Regions from separate parts of the Homo sapiens genome. Here region 2 is linked to region 1. The links come from fine-mapping of genetic effects on gene expression. A gene starts in region 1. The other region holds a variant in brackets. All regions are shown on one strand. Distances are between the middles of the regions. Region 1 holds the start of EXTL3 (exostosin like glycosyltransferase 3). Region 2 has its middle 37 kb from the start of EXTL3-AS1.

What was found.
Region 2: its variant is fine-mapped to the expression of EXTL3 in whole blood (TOPMed, PIP 0.98).

The regions. Positions count from the first base shown.
Region 1 is chr8:28,699,416-28,703,800 of GRCh38, forward strand. It overlaps EXTL3 (exostosin like glycosyltransferase 3), which reads left to right and starts at 2,086. Exons shown (of 7, transcript NM_001440.4): 1 at 2,086-2,244. EXTL3-AS1 (EXTL3 antisense RNA 1) reads right to left here and starts at 2,049. Exons shown (of 3, transcript NR_126027.1): 1 at 1,945-2,049; 2 at 26-628. RefSeq lists silencers at 1,825-2,004, 2,075-2,144, 2,245-2,654.
Region 2 is chr8:28,662,605-28,666,989 of GRCh38, forward strand. It overlaps a transcript of EXTL3 not described here. Among named protein-coding and RNA genes, the nearest start is that of EXTL3-AS1, 37 kb to the right of the region's middle. RefSeq lists a silencer at 4,308-4,385. The variant A/G (reference allele first, on the strand shown) is at 1,740.

The sequences.
Region 1 (4,385 bases):
GGGGAGCAGGAGAGTGCAGACTCACAAGATCAAAGCGGAGGGGGGCTCAGCAGCAGGTGAATATCCCTGTTCTTCCTAAGGCTTCATAATCTTTTTGTTGTTGTTGTTCCCTAGATGGAGACTTGCTCTATTGCCCAGGCTGGAGTGCAGTGGTGCGATCTCGGCTCCCTGCAACCTCTGCCTCCCGGGTTCAAGTGATTCTCCTGCCTCAGCCTCCTGAGTAGCTGGGATTATAGGCACGCGCCACCACGCCCAGCTAATTTTTGTATTTTTGGTAGAGACAGGGTTTCACCATGTTGGCCAGGCTGGTCTTGAACTGCTGACCTCGTGATCCACCTGCCTGGGCCTCCCAAAATGCTGGGATTATAGGTATGAGTCACGGCGCCTGGCCAGCTTCATCATCTTTAAAAGCAAGTAAGTCAAAGTTAAGGGCAGCAATGTGTTAAGTTACTCCAACGTAAAAGACTGAGTCGAACAGGTAGCAGGTAACTGCACGTCCTCTCTCGCCAGTGTGGAGATGAACCAAGGCCTGGTAGTTCTTCCCTGTCTTCTGTGGTGTCTCCTCCCACACTGCCAAGCCCCTGCCTGCTGTGGCCGCGTACCTTTGGAGGAGAGCCAAGTAGAGGAACTGTTAAAAAAAAAAAAAAAATTATGATACCCAGGCAACACTCACTCCATTTTCATTTCCTGCAATACTTCTGATTTTTAAACTTTGCCTCCTCCTGTCTTGACTTCAACAAATTGGTAACAGTAAGGGTTGCATATGTACACATATGATGGCGGTAAGACTTGGAAAGCATTTGTTTATAATAATCAAGAGGAAAGGAGAAGAAAAGTGAATAGGAGACGGGAGAGCAAGAGAAAGAGGATAGGAAAAGGAGGATCCGAGTCGGGACTAGTTTGGGGGTGGAGAGATGAAGAGTGTGCTCTAGGAAACAGGTTGCTATGGGTTTTTAAAGGTTTGTTTTGCAAACGTTATCCTTAGCCCAAGCTGTCCCCCGTGGGCATCAGTCTTCAGCATTTTCTCAGCCTCCTTGCTGGAGCACTGGGCCTGGGCTCCAGCAGAAAGGGCGAGTGGATAAGGTCGGCAGCTGCGAGCCTGTCTCTGGGGTGCAGTTCTTCTTAAGGCAGCCGACCACCCAAGCGCAGGGCCAGGAGCCAGCTCTACCCGGCTTCTCCAGGTCCTGTGTGTTTGGGGTTCCCTGGCGAGGAAACCCTGGAGTAGAAGCCCTGTGTTCTGGGTATTAAAAACATTAAAAAAAATACGTTAAGACAAATTTGATCGTAGCTCATACTGCAGTTACAGGTTTTAAAAGCTGGTTTCTAAGTTAAGCAGGTGACCAGGTAGGGTGCTTGCTCCCACCCCCATCCCCTGTTCCATTATCCAAGGGGTCTTATCCTGACTTCTCAAGTGTGGAAACACACAGTCACGTGTTCCTTGGGACTGTGGAAAACGTGCACTTTGGGGCTCACAGGGGCTGGCTTTTCAGCATTGACACGGTGTTCTTCTTTCCTGTCTTGTTTTGGTGATCATCCCACACGACTAGATTAACCTGTTGTTTTTGCAAAGCCCCAGGATTTTCCTAAGCGTCCAAGCCGCCCGGCCTTGTCTTTGTTATGAAATAGTCAAAGGGCTTCAAAACTGCAGGCAGTTGCCGCGCACGGCGCCCGTCCTTGGAGGCCTTTTCTCTGAGAATGGAGTTTTAGATTCAGGGATTTATGACTTGACTTTCCCGGGGCCGGCGCCCCTGCGGAAGCGGCGGTGGCTCGGGAGTCAGACCCGGTTCCCACGCCGCCGGGAGCATCCTCCCCGCCATCTGCGGTCGGGTCTTCTCGACAGGGCCCGGCGGCCTTTGCAGGACGCGAGTTGGGGGGCTCCGAAGGCGGCCGGCGCGCCCCCCCGCGCCTCCCACAATCCCCGGCGCCCGGCCCCGCGCCCCTGACCCGGGTGTCACCGCGGAGCTGCGGGAGGCCTCGGCGGTCTTCGGACGCGGTCGGGAAAGTGGCGAGCGCGCGCCCGCGTCCGCGCCCCCGCTCGCGAACGCCGGCTTCGGCCATTTCCGGCGCGGCGCCCTTCGGCAAGTTCCGCAGTCGCCTGTCGGAAATGGCTGCCGGCCGGCAGGGGGAGCGGCGGATCAGGCGCGGCCTGGAAGGCGGGCGGCCGGCAGCCAGAACGGCTTCTGGGACGCCGACTTTCGCGCAGGCGGCGGCGGCGGCGGCGGCGGGTCCCTGAGCTGGAAGCCGGTAGGACTGCTGGCCGCGCGTGAGCCCGAGGAGCGGGGGCCGCGCCCGGAAGGGCTCATGGGAGGGTGCCGGGGCTGGCCCCGAGCGCTGGGGACGCGGCGGGAGGGACCGGGTCCGCCGTGCCCCGGGGAGGCTGCTGCTGCCCGGCGGCGGGAGGCATGCAGCCTCCGAGCGGAGTAGGCCTGCCCGGTGGCTCGGGGGCCCGGGGAGAGGCCGCCAGGCCCTCGGCCGGCAGCCGGGAGGGCTAACGGGTCCCTGGGCTGGGGCACCCCCTCCCCGCCCCCACACGCCCTCTCTCGTCCCAGTTTGGGCTGCTCGGGACCCGCCTCCACCTTTTTTTGGACGCTCGGCTGCAGCTGTTGGGCTTCCTCTGCTCCCTGAAGCCCTCCACCCTCTGTGACCCGCGGCGTTTCTCTGGCTGCTGGCCCGGAGCATCTTCTGTCGGCGGAGGCGCAGCTCCGGACTACCCCCACCCCTTCCCGAGCACACCTTCCCACATCTGCCCCCCGCTTCTACACGCAGTCGCCTGCTGCCCTCCCCGCTGGCTCTTTTTGCCGGGCTCGCCTCCTTTCAGGAGCCACAGTCAGAGGAGCCGCTTCCTGTCCGAGGGTCCAGGTGCTGCAGGACCCTGGCTCCCAGGCCCAGCTCCCCTAGAGCCGGCCTCGCGCTGCACGGGCTGGACCGGACAGGGGTGCGCGGGGCGTGTGTGCGCGGCGGAGCTCCGAGCCCAGCGACGGGGACAGCACCTATTCCGAGCCCCTCGGAGGCGAGCCAGGGCTGCCCGGCTGCTGATGGGTGCTGCTTTCTCTTCCCCACATTGAGCGAGAGCTTCGGCTCCTTTTATTAATAAAATCTGTTTGGCTCTCAGAAGACTTAAATTTTGTGGATTTTGCCCCTCCCCCGCCACCCGCACCACCCCACCCCCGCCCTTCCCCGCAACCTGGATTTTTCTTCCCTTTTTAAAAACTCTAAAAGCTTCATCAAGTCCTCTTGGTTCGACTCCTTTGGTGGAGGAGGAAGCGCAGAACACCACAACATGTCCATTATTTCCCCCATATGTGATTTACTTAAGAGTCGTCTTTAGCATTTCTTGTCACTTTGTCCTATTCTTTGTCCAATTTAGGTAGCTTCATTTTTACTGGCAGAGCTCCCCGTGCTTTCTTTTGTTTTTAAAGGCTTTGTGTGTTGCAGCCATGCAGACTCTGCAGTTTTCTGTATTTTGTTCGGCAGTGAGTCCTGCATTCTGATACAGTGACTATCGCTGTGACCTGTGTGCTGGGATAGTAACTGCGGGGCACAGAGTCTGGAGCGAAGCGAAGCCTTCTCAGCGACTTGCTATTTAGCAGAGGGACTTTGAAATATTTTGTGATGAAAGAAAAACCGTTTTCTTAAACTGTTATTTGATGTGTTAAAAATACCTTATCCTGTGGGAATTTCCCATTCGTTTGCTTGTGGGGAGCCGGAGGAATCATAAGAACTCACGAGCAAGAGAGAATCGAGCCTAAGTGCTTTCTGGAAGAGTCAGAATTGTGGCTCTTCAGACTTCCGGAAACGTGCTTAATGTCCAGAGATGTGAGGGGCATACCTACCTAAAAAATGATTGACAGGCGTATGTCTGTATCCCTCCACTTCTCGCTTTTCTAGTGGGGGAAAACCCTGTTAATACTTGGTGTGTAGTTGGGATCTTTCAGTGATTAGGCCTCAAGAGTTTTGACCTCGGAGTAAAAAGATTTTAAGGGAACAGTTTGGAGAGAAGTAAGTCGGGCCAGGCCGAGCATGGGAAATGTATTTCTAGGAGAGAGGGCAAGTCCAGAGGGTGGTTTGAAGCCAGCAGAAGACTAGAGAGAGACCTGTTCTTTTCCGCAGGGCCCTAGGCCAGCTGTGGATTGGAGGGTTATGGGTGATGAGGGGCTGCAGGAGTGATGCGGAGTCCTTGTCTCAGTTGAGACTGGTGGTCTTCTGGAGGAGGGTGGGAGGGATTCCCTGATGTAGACTCAGGTGTTAGGAGAAAAATGAAGTCCCATCAGACCTACTCTTGGTAAAGGTTCGAGCGCCTTTGTATGTTACTCTAGAGTGAGGCGAGGAATATGAAACCAGGACGTTTCATAACGTCCTAAAACTGCCTACTCCATTCGCTGGTT
Region 2 (4,385 bases), 37 kb before region 1:
GAGGAAACCTGTTTGTATAAAAAGTAGAGCCAGGCTTGGTGGTTCACGTCTGTAATCCCAGCACTTTGGGAGGCCAAGGCGGGTGGATAATTAGAGTCCAGGGGTTCGAGACCAGCCTGGGCAACATGGTGAAATCCTGTCTCTAAAAAATACAAAAATTAGCCAGGCGTGGTGGCACGTGCCTGTGGTCCCAGCTACTGGGGAGGCTGAGGTGGGAGCTCCTTGAACCCAGGAGGTCCAGGCTGCAGTGAGCTGAGCTGCGATTGCACCATTGCCCAGTTGTTTGAGGCTGCAGTGAACCACGATTGTGCCACTGCACTCTAGCCTGGAAGACAGAGTGAAACCCTGTCTCCAAAAAATTAAAAAGTAGATAGAAATGGAAATAATTGTATTACCGTACTATCAGTTAATTCTTTGAGCTCATTCTGAGCCAAAAACCCTATGCTGATTTATCGTCAAAAATAATTTTTAATGCTCTATCCACATGCAATTCAATGAGATCTCCTTAGGCTTGAGGGAAAGGAAAAATGTTGGAAAGCCCCTGACTTTGCAAAAGCAAATTTTACTCAGTCCTTGTGGTTATATGTTGGTTCAGCACTAATACCAGGATTGGGTTTGGTGCCCCAGGAAACATGCCATGGTAAGATTAGGATGGGTAAGGGGTGTCCTCTTCTTTTTATAAAGTAGAAAAGGGCTACTGGGGAAAGTAAGACCCTGCCCCTCCCTCGCAGGCAAGGGCTCAGGCAGATCAGTTGCAGAAAAGCGGGCCTGGAAATCAATTCCTTTCAAACTGTTGGTGCCCTTGTACTGAAGAGGAAGTGTTCTTATACCTCCATTTGAAGACCATTATTCTTTTATTTTTATTTGTGATGGTGTCTCGCTGTGTCGCCACGCTAGAGTACAGTGGCGTGATCTTGGCTCACCGCAACCTCCACCTCCTGGGTTCAAGCAATTCTCCTGTCTCAGCCTCCTGAGTAGCTAGAATTACAGGTGCACACCACCACACCCAGCTAAATTTTAAATTTTTAGTAGAGACGAGGTTTCACCATGTTGGCCAGGCTGGTCTCGAACTCCTGACCTCAAGTGATCCGCCCACCTCAGCCTCCCAAAGTGCTGGAATTACAGGTGTGAGCCACTGTGCCTGGCCTGAAGACCACTATTCTTTGAAACCCCTAATCTCTTCCACTTTACAAGACAGCGTTCTCAAACCTCCCCTCAGCAAGACAGTTTCAGGCAGAGGCTGGTGTCTCTCAGTTTTCCTCTCTGGGGCAGGGCTGAGGAGGCTGCCATTGCTGGCGGCAGGCTAAATTTGGCTGCTCAGTTAGACAGGCGTTACGAAGTGAATAGACTCCTGGGAAAAGAGGAAGAAAATAAGTGAGAAAACATTGCTGTCTCTTTATCTTTTGAAAATACACGTGGGCCCTGACCAGGTGACACCTTCTTCACCAGTGACGGAATGACTATTGGTGAAGACACAGTTGACAGGCAGTGGGTTACAGAATGAGCAGAGAGAAAGACCCGGATTTGGCGGGCTGTCATGGTCTGCTTGGGCTGCCCTAACAAAATACCACAGCAGGCTGGGTGGCTTCAACAGCCGGCATTTATTTTCTCACCATTCTGGAGGATGGAAGTCTGGGATCAGGGTGCCAGCATGGTCACATTCTGGTAGGGACCCTCTCCCTGGCTTGCAGGTGGCTGCCTGTCATTGTGTGCCCATGTGGCCTTCCCTTGGTGAGTGC[A/G]TGGGCAGAGACAGAATCTTTCTTTCCATCTTTGTTTGTTTGTTTGTTTGTTTGTTTGAGACAGGGTCTTGCTGTGTCACCCAGGCTGGAGTGAAGTGACGTGATCATGGCTCACAGACGTGAGCCACTGCATCCGGCCTCTGGGGTCTTTTTTCATTTTGAGTAAGCAAACACCTAAAGTACTTTTTTCACGTGGAATGAGTGGTGGTAAACAATGTGAGTTTTGACAGGTCTCAATATTTTTTTTCATATTGATTCTTGAACTGTGTCGGATGATTCTTTATAGAATCCAGAGTTCAAGATATTCCTTTCCCCAGGCATTTGAAGATATTGTTCCATTGTCTTCCAGCAACCAGTATTGTTGATGAAATTTGATGGCAGTTTAATTCCCTTTCCTTTCCTTTTTATATACATCTCCCCCCGGAAGCTTTCAAAATTGCCCAGCGTTCTGAAATTTCACAAGAATGCAACACCATTAGGTCTTTTTTAATTCACTCTGTACAGCAGTCAGTGGACATTGTAATCTGAAGATGAGTTCCTCTTCAGCTCAGGGTCTTTTTCTCTCATATCTTTGATGATTTCCTCCCCTTCCTTCTTTGTCTCCTTTGGAATTCCTATGAAAGGAATATTGGACTACCTGACTCTATCACCCTTGAGCCTTTTCTCTCACATTTACCTATTTTTGTCTGTTTCCTTTTTATTCTGAAAGTTTTCCTTTACTTTTTTTTTTTTTTTTTTTTTTTTTTGAGAGGGTATCTCACTCTATCGCCCAGACTGGGGTGCGATGGTGTGACATCAGTTCACTGCAGGCTCCACCTCCCAGGTTAGAGTGATTCTCATGCCTCAGCCTCCCGAGTAGCTGAGATTACAGTTGCCTGCCACCACCATGCCTGACTCATTTTTGTATTTTTAGTAGAGACGGGGTTTTGCCATGTTAGCCAGGCTGGTCTCAAACTCCTGACCTCAGGTGATCCACCCACCTAGGCGTCCCAAAGTCCTGGGGTTATAGGCGTGAGCCACCACGTCTGGCCACCTTTACTTTCATATCTCAAGCTCAGTCGTCACTTGTTTACTTTTTTTTTTTTTTTTTTTTTGAGACAGGGTCTTGCTCTGTCACCCTGGCTGGAGTGTGGTCATGGCTCACTACAGCCTCAATCTCCTGGGCTCAAGTGATCCTCCCACCTCAGCCTCCCAAGTAGTTGGGACTACAGGCACATGGCACCACACCAAGCTAATTTTTGTATTTCTTGTAGAGATGCGGTCTCACCATGTTGCCCATGGCTCAAACTCCTGGGCTCGGGCAATCCGTCCATCTCAACCTCCCAAAGTGCTGGGATTACAGGCATGAGCCACTGTGCCTGTCCTACTTGTGTACATTCTAAGGAAGGCAGTCCTGCCATCTGATTTTTTTTCTTATGCCCTGTAATCATACCTTAATTACCAAGTACGCTTTTTTATTCTTTTCTGGATAGGTTTTCTATGTTTAGCTGGAGGGCAAAAGCTGAATGTGTTTAAGACACTGGCAGTCCCAACTCTCCCAGCTTTAATGAATTATCCTAATGATTGCCATGGTGCACTTCTGTGCCTTCTGTCTGGCGTCATCCAGTTAGAAGCTTCCATGGACTTCTTTTCAAGATCTGGCCTTCCTGGTGGCGTTTGAATCTGTGGTTTTCTTGTCTGCTTCTTTGTCAATCTCATCCTAATGCTTTCTGCCCTCCAGGAGTTTTTAAGATTTCTTGCCTGCTGATGGCAGCCTTTCTTTTTGCGCCTCTTATTATTTCACTCTTTTTCAAAATGCCTTTTTCATCATTTCAATGGGTCCTTGAATGGGAGATGAGAGAGATCTTAGGTACTCAGTGCATCAGTTTAAACTCCGGAAGGTTCTTTCTTGCTTTCTTGCTGTCTCTTTTCTTTTCTTTTCTTTTCCTTCCTTCCTTCTTTCTTTTTGTTTTTAGACAATGTCTCACTCTGTCACCCAGGCTGGACTGCAGTGGCATGATCATGGCTTCCTACATTCTCAAACAACTGGGCTCAAGTGATCCTCCTGCCTCAGCCTCCTGAATAGCTGGGACCATGGGCGTGTACCACCAAGCCTGGCTAATTTTTTTTGATGGAGTCTCACTATGTTGCCCAGGCTGGTCTCAAACTCCTGGACTTAAGCAATCCTCCCACCTTGGCCTCCCAAAGTGCTGGGACTATAGGCGTGCTTACGCCCAGCCACTCTTTTCTTTTCTTTCTTTTTTTTTATTTGAGACAGAGTTTCACTCTGTCGCCCAGGCTGGAGTGCAGTGGCGTGATCTTGGCTCACTACAACCCCCGCCTCCTGGGTTCAAGTGATTCTTGTGCCTCAGCCTCCCCAGTAGCTGGGATTACAGGCACATGCCACCACACCCAGCTAATTTTGTATTATTAGTAGAGATGGGGTTTCACCATGTTGGCCAGGCTGGTCTCGAACTCCTGACCTCAGGTGATCTGCCTGCCTCGGCCTCTCAGAGCGCTGGGATTACAGGCATGAGCCACCACGCCCAGCCCCAGCCACTCCTTTCTTAAAATTGTATTCCAGTCCTCTCCTCCTGCCTTCGACTCCCTGGTTTGTCTCCTTACCTTGCATAAAGGTCCCCACAGCAATGCAACCTGGAGAGTCCT